2 separate regions of the Homo sapiens genome follow, and region 2 is linked to region 1. The links come from fine-mapping of genetic effects on gene expression. A gene starts in region 1. The other region holds a variant in brackets. All regions are shown on one strand. Distances are from middle to middle. Region 1 holds the start of GZMK (granzyme K). Region 2 has its middle 17 kb from the start of ESM1.

Region 1 (5,196 bases):
CTGTTCTATAAGGGTCTCCTGAAACACAGGAGAAGCAGAAACAAAACATCTCTAAGAGCAGCAAGAAAGACAGCTAAACACAGCAAAGAAGAGCCACAAGGCTATGACGTGTGAAGCCAGCCCTCCTCTGAGCACAGCCTTGCACTTGCTCAGTCCGGTACAGTTGCTGTAAAGCCATCCAAAGCAAACATGGCCCTCCCTGCAGCAGACTCAACAGAACAAAAACCAACACCCAGAAATAAATTAGATCGCCGAGCTCATCATGTTACACAGCCCACTGTTCTCAAATCCAGAATCGTGAATATAATAACAAATGATACTATTAACTGGCAAATCGGTCTAAAGCCAAAACCAAATAACTCATTACTATTAACCAACATGATTCTCAGAATTTTCTAGGTCAGCTACAAGAAAGAGTTATGAGACTCTTCCCAACTGAACTAAATCTCACCCATGTCTAATTACACGCAGTGTGTATGGCTAAATCCTTTTTCTCTTCTGCACAGCTAGCTTGTGTCTCAGAGCCCCTAAACCCCCAGGGACTTCTCAAAGGAGGCAGGCATGTAGCCAGGTTGAAAGGAACATAGAGCCGGGAGCCAGCACATAGGAGCTTAAGGGCCACCTGCTAGCTCGGTAATCTCAAGCAAGTCCCTGAATTTCAGTTTATTTATCCATAAAACAAGACTAATGACAACCACTTCCCTGGAAATACAGCTAAAAACGTTCAGCAATTTGTACAACGCTATGTGGACATTAATCCTTACTACTCAGAAATAAGCAGCTGAGAGATGTTTGTAACCATTCCCATTTCCCCCGCCACACACACACACACACACACACACAAAGCTTCGTCCTTTACAATTTATTTCTTCCTTAGAGTTTGGATCACTTCTACCTGTCACACACCATCTTCCTTACGATCCCAGCATCACTGGGATGTAGCAGGGAACTGACGCCATCCTGTCTGCCTTCCAATGTGGAACAATGGCACACAGTAGAGCATCCAAGGTACATCAACAGTGACAAAGATGACTTGAAAATTCACAGGGACATTTGAGTGGGAGTAATAAGTTTGGTTTATTAAGCTTGTGGCTTTTCTTAATCTGGCTCCTCCTTATCTCACCTTCTGCTCTGACAGGAAGTCACTGCTCTGCGTTGGTTTTGTTCATTCTGTTTAACATGTAGAAAGCTTTACTGTTGCCACACACCTGTACAAGGAAAGCAGGTTTTTTATAAAATTCTGTGTTCTGGGAGGGTACTCATTCACATACAACTTAACATACAGGGAGGTCAGGCAGGTGATTTGGTCTAGGTCATAAGCTGTGTTGCCTTGGGCAAATTACTTAGCCTCTTGGAACTTATTTCTTCCATTGTAACATAAGTTGTCCTGCTTTCCTCAAAGACATAGACATGAAACCATAAATGATCATATAAAAAGAATTTTGGAAATAAGGTATTTTACTTATATATTATTAAGTTATAATGAATAATACATAATTATAGTATTATTTTTTATTATTCCTACTCTTTGTGCTAGAAAACAATTTGAAAGGAGTCTCTTGCAATCTGCCGAGCATAATAGCTCTGGATTTTAATTCTCCTTTCTAAAATGAATGGAAGATAAAATGCATACCTCTTAAAAGAAAGATCTGTTGATTTAATGCAAATTTTGATCAGTGTTACTAGGAAGTGATTGGCATTCTGATGCGTGATCTGTTTGTATTCATTTTATATTTGCACTGCTGATCAGTGTCTGGCACAAACAGAATCTTGTAGAATCTTGAGTCTAATACCTTTTGTATTGAAGGCCTGGCAATGCATTGTCATCTGTTCCTGGGAAGAATTACAAAATGCAGTCCTTTATTTTTAAAAGACATTATTATTAAGTCCCTGGAAAAACACATGGCCATTTTCAATTAAAAATGAGTAAAAGAGAGACTCTGAATCAAAAATAGTTGCCAATGTTCACCTTTAACAACATTATGAAATCTCACAAAAATGTAACTAAAATTTAACCAAATTTGGGCAAACTTAGAGAAACGACATGAGTAGGGATGTTTGCTGCAAAACATATGGTTTTCTCTGGTTGGTGCTCAGGCTTTAGCTAAGCCACATTGTGAAGTAACCATAATCTGTGCAAGGTCCATGTCTCTCTTCATCATAAATCTATGTCCAAATGAAAAAGAGAGAAGAATGAAATATGATAGGCACCATTTTGTGCCAGGAAAAATAGTAAGTATTGCTTGAGAGCAATGGACATCTTTGAACTCTGTCTGCAACTTCATTACATTCTTATGGCATGGATATTTTTCATTTATAAATATTATATACACATATAGTATAAATTTTCTTTATAGCATAAGTACTCTGATACAGGTATTAGAGATGGTATCTCCAGATATGAGTTCTTTATGGCATACATACCTCTCCCAAAAAAGTGCTAAAAGCAATTAGCCGGATGTGGTGGTGGGCGCCTGTAGTCCCAGCTACTCGGGAGGCTGAGGCAGGAGAATGGCGTGAACCCAGGAGGCAGAGCTTGCAGTGAGCCGAGATCGCGCCACTGCACTCCAGCCTGGGCGACAGAGAGAGACTCCGTCTCAAAACAAAACAAAACAAAAAAGTGCTAAAAGCACAGACCTGAAAGTCCCCAAACTGATACATAACGTTTACACCTAGGTGTGAAAAAAAATCTTACCCCTAGAGCACCTGTGGTGAGAAAGTCAAAACTTACAAGAACAAAACTCAGTCTTCAGAATCTTCTTCCTTCATCACAGGATCAACACATTTCATCTGGGCTTCTTAAATCTAAATCTTTAAAATGACTAAGTTTTCTTCCTTTTCTCTGTTTTTCCTAATAGTTGGGGCTTATATGACTCATGTGTGTAAGTATCTCCTATATCTACATGTAAACATTAAATGAATTTCTACTGACTATATTGTTATATTATAGATGAAAATTATTTTCACAATCATTCCTATCTTTCTGAACTGTAATGTATTATACAAATTTTTCATCAGTAAAATTATTGTAGCTTTTAGGTAGGGTTATTGTTGTTTTTTAAGCTTTGAAAATAATATAGTGACTGTCATTGGAAGAATTACATGAAACAGTAGTTTAGATCTTTTGTGTGAAACCTTTTGGTCTACTTTTGTAGGTTTCAATATGGAAATTATTGGAGGGAAAGAAGTGTCACCTCATTCCAGGCCATTTATGGCCTCCATCCAGTATGGCGGACATCACGTTTGTGGAGGTGTTCTGATTGATCCACAGTGGGTGCTGACAGCAGCCCACTGCCAATATCGGTGAGTCCTCCACACTTTTCCAGACATGTGTTTTTTCTGAAAGTTATTATAGGTACAAGAGAAGCTTACCTCTCCTGAATGAGAATTTGATCTACTGTTAGCTTCTGTGGTTACTGACCAACTGGTGGCGTTTATTTACCTTCTTCCACATCCACGCTTTCTGTCTTGGGTTTTCCTTTTCAGAGAGAACTGAGCTGCTTTTCCCAGGCAAGACATTAGACAAATTCAAGTCCTCTGTATAATGCAGGGAACACAGCAACAGTAATACTTGAAGCAGCAGTACTCTTGACCTTGTTAGATCACACTGCTCAAAAGGAAATCAGACAACCTGAGCTTGCTCTGTGCTCTGAGCTTCCCCATTTTACAAAGGGGTAATAATCATATCATACCTGCTTTGTGGGTTTTGAGAATTAAATAGTATCTGTTTAAGTATTTTAGCATGCTTGGCACATTTAGTAAGCACAAAAAAATTGCAGCTATTATCATTAGTATTATACGCATGAGAAGCCTACTTTGCCACTCCTAACAGTAGCTACCTAACAGTAGCTACTCACCACTTACAACTTTCCTAGGTGGAAAAAAACAAGTTATTGATGACTTCTAGAAAGAGAAAGATAATGAGAGAGTTATTTTCTAGGATACTTAGAATGAAAGCTTTTCTGAAGACAGAGTAAAACCTTCCAAAGTCCATTTCAGCCTAGGATTCTCTTACTTCAGCTAATAAAGCACAAAACCCCTCTTGGGATGCTGCAACCATCACAAAAGGAAATGCCAGTAGAAAACTAATTTGGTATTTGTTGTTTTGTTTGTTTGCTTGGGTTTTTGGTTTTGTTTTTTGTTTGTATATATGTTTCCTTATGTTTCTTACCTAATAAGCTGAAATGGAGCCTTCTCCTTTTCTTTCACTTAAAGATCTCTCTTAGCTGTAATGGTTTGCTCTCCAGGCATTGTCTATATCTAAACAGAACAATTGAATTGATTTGCTTTTCTATGCTTTGGGGGTTTTGTCTGATTACCCCATTTAAATGGAACTGTTTGATCACAAATTGGAAGTTTTGAAGCCTGCAAACTGGGAGATCTTCTGCTATCTCTAAATAGCAAGCCACTGATTTCCAATTTAATATGGTTACTTCATTTACACAGGGTTCTTGCCCTCATAGAAATCACACTCTCATCCCCATCACTTCTCTCTTCTCCAGGGCATTTGCCCCCTCGAGATCAGAGAGACAGAGTGGGGAACTGTCAGCGAATGTTCATTTGATGCAAAATATGCACATCTTCAAATATGCTCATAATACACATTCAAATGGTCTATAACCTCCCCAGACACAGAGCTTGACTTCTAAATGTTCAACAAACTTTGGATGGAAAGAAAGAAATACACTGAAAGATCTTTCTTTCTTTCTTTCTTTCTTTGGCTAGGCCTGAAACATGGTGTATGAAAAAGTGCTTCACTAGCCATAAAGTGTTATAGGAAATTAAATAATATCACTAAGTTGAATTTTAAATTTTGTCAAGTGGATTTAACTCACGAGAAGCGGATTCCCAAATTGGGGAAAGAGATTATTGACAAAAGACTGGAGAGAGGTCTTGGAGTTTTTTGTGTTTTGTTTTTTTTTTCTTAAAACAAACTATTGCTAAATATCATTTTAAATGGCTGGGGTATAAAGAACTGCAAAATATGTAGATCAAATTTCCTCTACAGGACACTTGGGTGTAAAAAGTAGGCAGATCGGTGGTTGGAAAAATATTAAGCTTTATGAAATTCAAAATATTTACAAAATAGCTCAATGGTGGCTTCCCACAAATGTACTCCCCAGTATCCTGTGGGAATAGTTTGCCCCAAGCCTCTCTCTCAGCAAAATTTTGAAGAGGGCCAAACCTGGGAGTGCT
Region 2 (5,196 bases), 22 kb before region 1:
AAATGTTAAAGAACAGAAATCACAACAAACTGTCTCTCAGACCACAGTGCAATCAAACTAGAACTCAGGATTAAGAAACTCACTCAAAACCAAACTACATGGAAACTGAACAACCTGCTCCTGAATGACTACTGGGTAAATAATGAAATGAAGGCAGAAATAAAGATGTTCTTTCAAACCAATGAGAACAAAGACACAACATATCAGAATCTCTGGGACACATTTAAATCAGTGTGTAGAGGGAAATTTATAGCACTAAATGCCCACAAGAGAAAGAAGGCAAGATCTAAAATCAACACCCTAACATTACAATTAAAAGAACTAGAGAAGCAAGAGCAAACACATTCAAAAGCTAACAGAAGGCAAGAAATAACTAAGATCAGAGCAGAACTGAAGGAGATAGAAACACAAAACATCCTTCAAAACATCAATGAATCCAGGAGGTGGTTTTTTGAAAAAATTAGCAAAATAGGCCACTAGCAAGACTAACAAAAAAGAAAAGAGAGAAGAATCAAATAGATGCAATAAAAAATGATAAAGGGGTTATCACCACCGATCCCACAGAAATACAAACTACCATCAGAGAATACTATAAACACATCTACACAAATAAACTAGAAAATCTAGAAGAAATGGATAAATTCCTGGACACATACACCCTCACAAGACTAAACCAAGAAGAAGTTGAATCCCTGAATAGACCAATAACAGGCTCTGAAATTGAGGCAATAATTAATAGCCTACCAACAAAAAAAAGTCCAGGACCAGATGGATTCACAGCCAAATTCTACCAGAGGTACAAGGAGGAGCTGGTACCATTCTTTCTGAAACTATTCCAATCAATAGAAAAAAAGGGAATCCTCCCTAACTCATTTTATGAGGCCAGCATCATCCTGATACCAAAGCCTGGCAGAGACACAACAAAAAAAGAGAATTTTAGACCAATATCCCTGATGAACATCGAAGCAAAAATCTTCAATAAAATACCGGCAAGACGACTCCAGCAGTACATCAAAAAGCTTATCCACCATAATCAAGTTGGCTTCATCCCTGGGATGCAAGTCTGGTTCAACATATGCAAGTCAATAATGTAATTCATCACATAAACAGAACCAAAGACAAAAACCACATGATTATCTCAATAGACACGGAAAAGGCATTTGACAAAATTCAACAGCCCTTCGTGCTAAAAACTCTCAATAAACTAGGTATTGATGGGACATATCTCAAAATAATAAGAGCTATTTATGACAAACCTACAGCCAATATCATACTGAATGGACAAAAACTGGAAGAATTCCCTTTGAAAACTGGCACAAGACAGGGATGCCCTCTCTCACAACTCCTATTCAATATAGTGTTAGAGGTTCTGGCCAGGGCAATCAGGTAGAAGAAAGAAATAAAGGGTATTCAATTAGGAAAAGAGGAAGTCAAATTGTCCCCGTTTGCGGATGACATGATTGTATATCTAGAAAACCCCATTGTCTCAGCCCAAAATCTCCTTAAGCTGATAGGCAACGTCAGCAAAGTCTCAGGATACAAAATCAATGTGCAAAAATCACAAGCATTCTTATACACCAATAACAGACAAACAGAGAGCCAAACCATGAGTGAACTCCCATTTACAATTGCTTCAAAGAGAATAAAATATCTAGGAATCCAACTTACAAGGGATGTGAAGGACCTCTTCAAGGAGAATTACAAACCACTGCTCAATGAAATAAAAGAGGACACAAACAAATGGAAGAACATTCCATGCTCATGGATAGGAAGAATCAATATTGTGACAATGGCCATACTGCCCAAGGTAATTTATAGATTCAATGCCATCCCCATCAAGCTACCAATGACTTTCTTCACAGAATTGGAAAAAGCTACTTTAAAATTCATATGGAATGAAAAAAGAGCCCGTATTGTCAAGACAATCCTAAGCAAAAAGAACAAAGCTGGAGGCATCATGATACCTGGCTTCGAACTATATTACAAGGCTACAGTAACCAAAATAGCATGGTACTGGTACCAAAACGGAGATATAGACTAATGGGACAGAACAGAGGCCTCAGAAATAACACTACACATCTACAACCATCTGATCTTTGCTGAACATGACAAAAACAAGAAATGGGGAAAGGATTCCCTGTTTAATAAACGGTGCTGGGAAAACTGTCTAGCCATATGTAGAAAGCTTAAACTGCATCCCTTCCTTATACCTTATACAAAAATTAACTCAAGATGGATTAAAGACTTAAATGTTACACCTACAGCCATAAAACCTGTAGAAGAAAACCTAGGCAATACCATTCAGGACATAGGCATGGGCAAGGACTTCATGACTAAAACACCAAAAGCAGTGGCAACAAAAGCCAAAATAGATCTAATTAATGGGATCTAATTAAACTAAAGAGCTTCTGCACTGCAAAAGAAACTACCATCAGAGTGAACAGGCAACCTACAGAATGAGAGAAAATCTTTGCAATCTACCTACTTGACAAAGGGCTAATAACCAGAATCTACAAAGAACTCAAATAAAGTTACAAGAAAAAATCAAACAACCCCATCAAAAAGTGGGCAAAGGATATGAACAGACACTTCTCAAAAGAAGACATTTATGCAGCCAACAGACACATGGAAAAATGCTCATCATCACTGATTAACAGAGAAATGCAAATCAAAACCACAATGAGATACCATCTCACACAAGTTAGAATGGCGATCATTAGAAAGTCAGGAAACAACAGGTGCTAGAGAGGATGTGAAGAAACAGGAACACTTTTACACTGTTGGTGGGACTGTAAGCTAGTTCAACCATTGCAGAAGACAGTGTGGCGATTCCCCAAGGATCTAGAACTAGAAATACCATTTGACCCAGCCATCCCATTACTGGGTATATACCCAAAGGATTATAAATCATGCTACTATAAATTCACATGCACACGTACGTTTATTGCAACACCATTCACAGTAGCAAAAACTTGGAACCAACCCAAATGTCATTAATGACAGACTGGATTAAGAAAATGTGGTACATATACACCATGGAATACTATGCAGCCATAAAAAAGGATGAGTTCATGTCCTTTGTAGGGACATGGATGAAGCTGGAAACCATCATTCTGAGCAAACTCTTGCAAGGACAGAAAACCAAACACTGCATGTTCTCACTCATAGGTGGGAATTGAACAATGAGAACACATGGACACAGGGCAGGGAACAA[T/C]ACACATCACACATCGGGACCTGTCATGGGATGTGGGGAAGGGGGAGGGATAGCATTAAGAGAAATACCTCATGTAAATAATGAGTTAATGGGTGCAGCACACCAACATGGCACATGTATACATATGTAACAAACTTGCACGTTGTGCACATGTACCCTAGAACTCAAAGTATAATTTAAAAAATAAATAAATAAAAGAATAATCCCTGTTGTAGATTTGTCTGAATTATCTCTCGTCTCTTACTTGCATTGCCCACATTCTGATAATCCTTCTATGTATGTTCCTTGTTGATCTTGTTTTATGTCCGGGACTTACTTGACTCTCTCTCTATAGTATAAATTTCAGCAGGGATTGAGCCTTCATTGCTAAATTGCTACGGAGTCTTGGCTTTGCTCTGATTTACTTGGCAAAATGCTGGCTGCCTGCTTCTTTTATTCCTTGTTTTCCCATCAGAAGAGTAATCTTTATTTAGTAAGTTGAAAATATAGTTCAGGGTGCCAATTGTTGCCAGTGATTGTTATTACTACTTTAAAATTTGAAAATGAAGGGATTTCCCCCAAAAAGTTATTTCTAAAATGGAAGATAGGTTTACCATCTGCTAGTTTTTGACCCAGAGATTTCCCATCAGTTTTCTGACCCTTTTCTGCAAGTGTATTGGTCATTTGGATGCACATAATCTGCCTCATCAGCAGTCTCCCTTCCCTGGATCTCTTCTGACACATTCACAAAACAACATCTGGGAATAAAAGCCTTAAGAATAAACAATGGAAGTGTTCTAGATGTCTGGGATGGAACGTGACTTGTCTGCTAGAAGAGTTTTCCTTCCTCCCTGAATTATGAGTTATTGAAAACTTCCTTGTCTTATAGAACACTTTGAGCACTTCGGTTTGGATTCCACAACAAGCATTCTTGGCTTTGATTTGGGTTGTTTTTGTTTTTGTTTTTTGCATAATATCAGCCAGTACTGTAACCTGCTGGCTTGGGTCCTTGGGTCCTATTGAGTGAGTCACGAGGACATTTTTCTGACTCTGACTCCAGAAGACTTTGTTCTTAAAGCAAGTTAGGAACATAGGGGAAGTGCCACTCTGGGACTAGACCTTCTTCCCTAACATCATGCTATGCTACTGCCCGACTTCCATTAGTCTTACTATTTATTACATTGGAAATGGCTTGTATACCTGTGTGCGCTCATGTGTGCATGTGTATATGTGCATGTGAATGCAATCTGTAGACTGGATGCTCCATCCTCTGCCTGGGGGCCTCACTCTTTAGGTTCTTTGCTTCTTCAGAGAGGTGTTTAAAACTGATGTTAGTGAAAATAGTACTTTCTGACTGAAATCCAAACTTTAAAATATTTCTCTAGTCATCTTCCGCATAACATACATACACATTGGGCAGAAAATGCATTTGCTTAGTCCTTCCAGTGTGACAGTTTTAAATATCCCCGGGCAACAACCACACAAAGGCTTCTGGCTCATCTGTGACCCAACAACATGCAAAAACAAAACATCATGCCTAGTGCCAGATTGTTACATACTCAAAGCAGGTGATGCCCATGTGGTGTGATTTAACAGGAACAAGGAATATTCTCAATCCAAACTATCTCCATCCCTGTCATCACTCTGGGCATCTCATCAGTGGAAATCCTTCCTCTGAATCTTCAATTTTTTTTAATATTTAAGAAACACTAAATAAAATGAGAATACACTGAAAAGTGACAACACTTTAAATTATTCTTGAGCAGTGAGATGTTGGTGGATATTTGCTGACAATTAAACCCTTGCAGAAGAGGACTGTTCAGAGAAACAGAAACACTGAGAGTGGAGATGGCAGGATTCATCACCTGCTTCCAAATTTGATCTTGAATCGATTTGACCAGTTCTGGTAATTCTGTGTTTTTTGGCAAATTTCAGAAAGCATGGAGGGAACTAAAAGACAGATATTGAAACTTCATTTTGTTTATTAAGAGAGAAATGGGCAG

Evidence for each region. PIP is the estimated chance that this variant, and not a neighbour inherited with it, causes the effect.
Region 2: its variant is the best candidate, but not a certain one, in a credible set for the expression of GZMK in whole blood (INTERVAL, PIP 0.77).

Annotation. Positions count from the first base shown.
Region 1 is chr5:55,021,505-55,026,700 of GRCh38, forward strand. GZMK (granzyme K) reads left to right here and starts at 2,752. Exons shown (of 5, transcript NM_002104.3): 1 at 2,752-2,882; 2 at 3,156-3,303. The coding sequence starts at 2,819. LOC102467081 (a long non-coding RNA gene) reads right to left here and starts at 2,665. Exons shown (of 3, transcript NR_104662.1): 1 at 2,425-2,665; 2 at 1,124-1,208; 3 at 1-18.
Region 2 is chr5:54,999,689-55,004,884 of GRCh38, forward strand. No RefSeq gene overlaps it. Among named protein-coding and RNA genes, the nearest start is that of ESM1, 17 kb to the left of the region's middle. The variant T/C (reference allele first, on the strand shown) is at 3,215.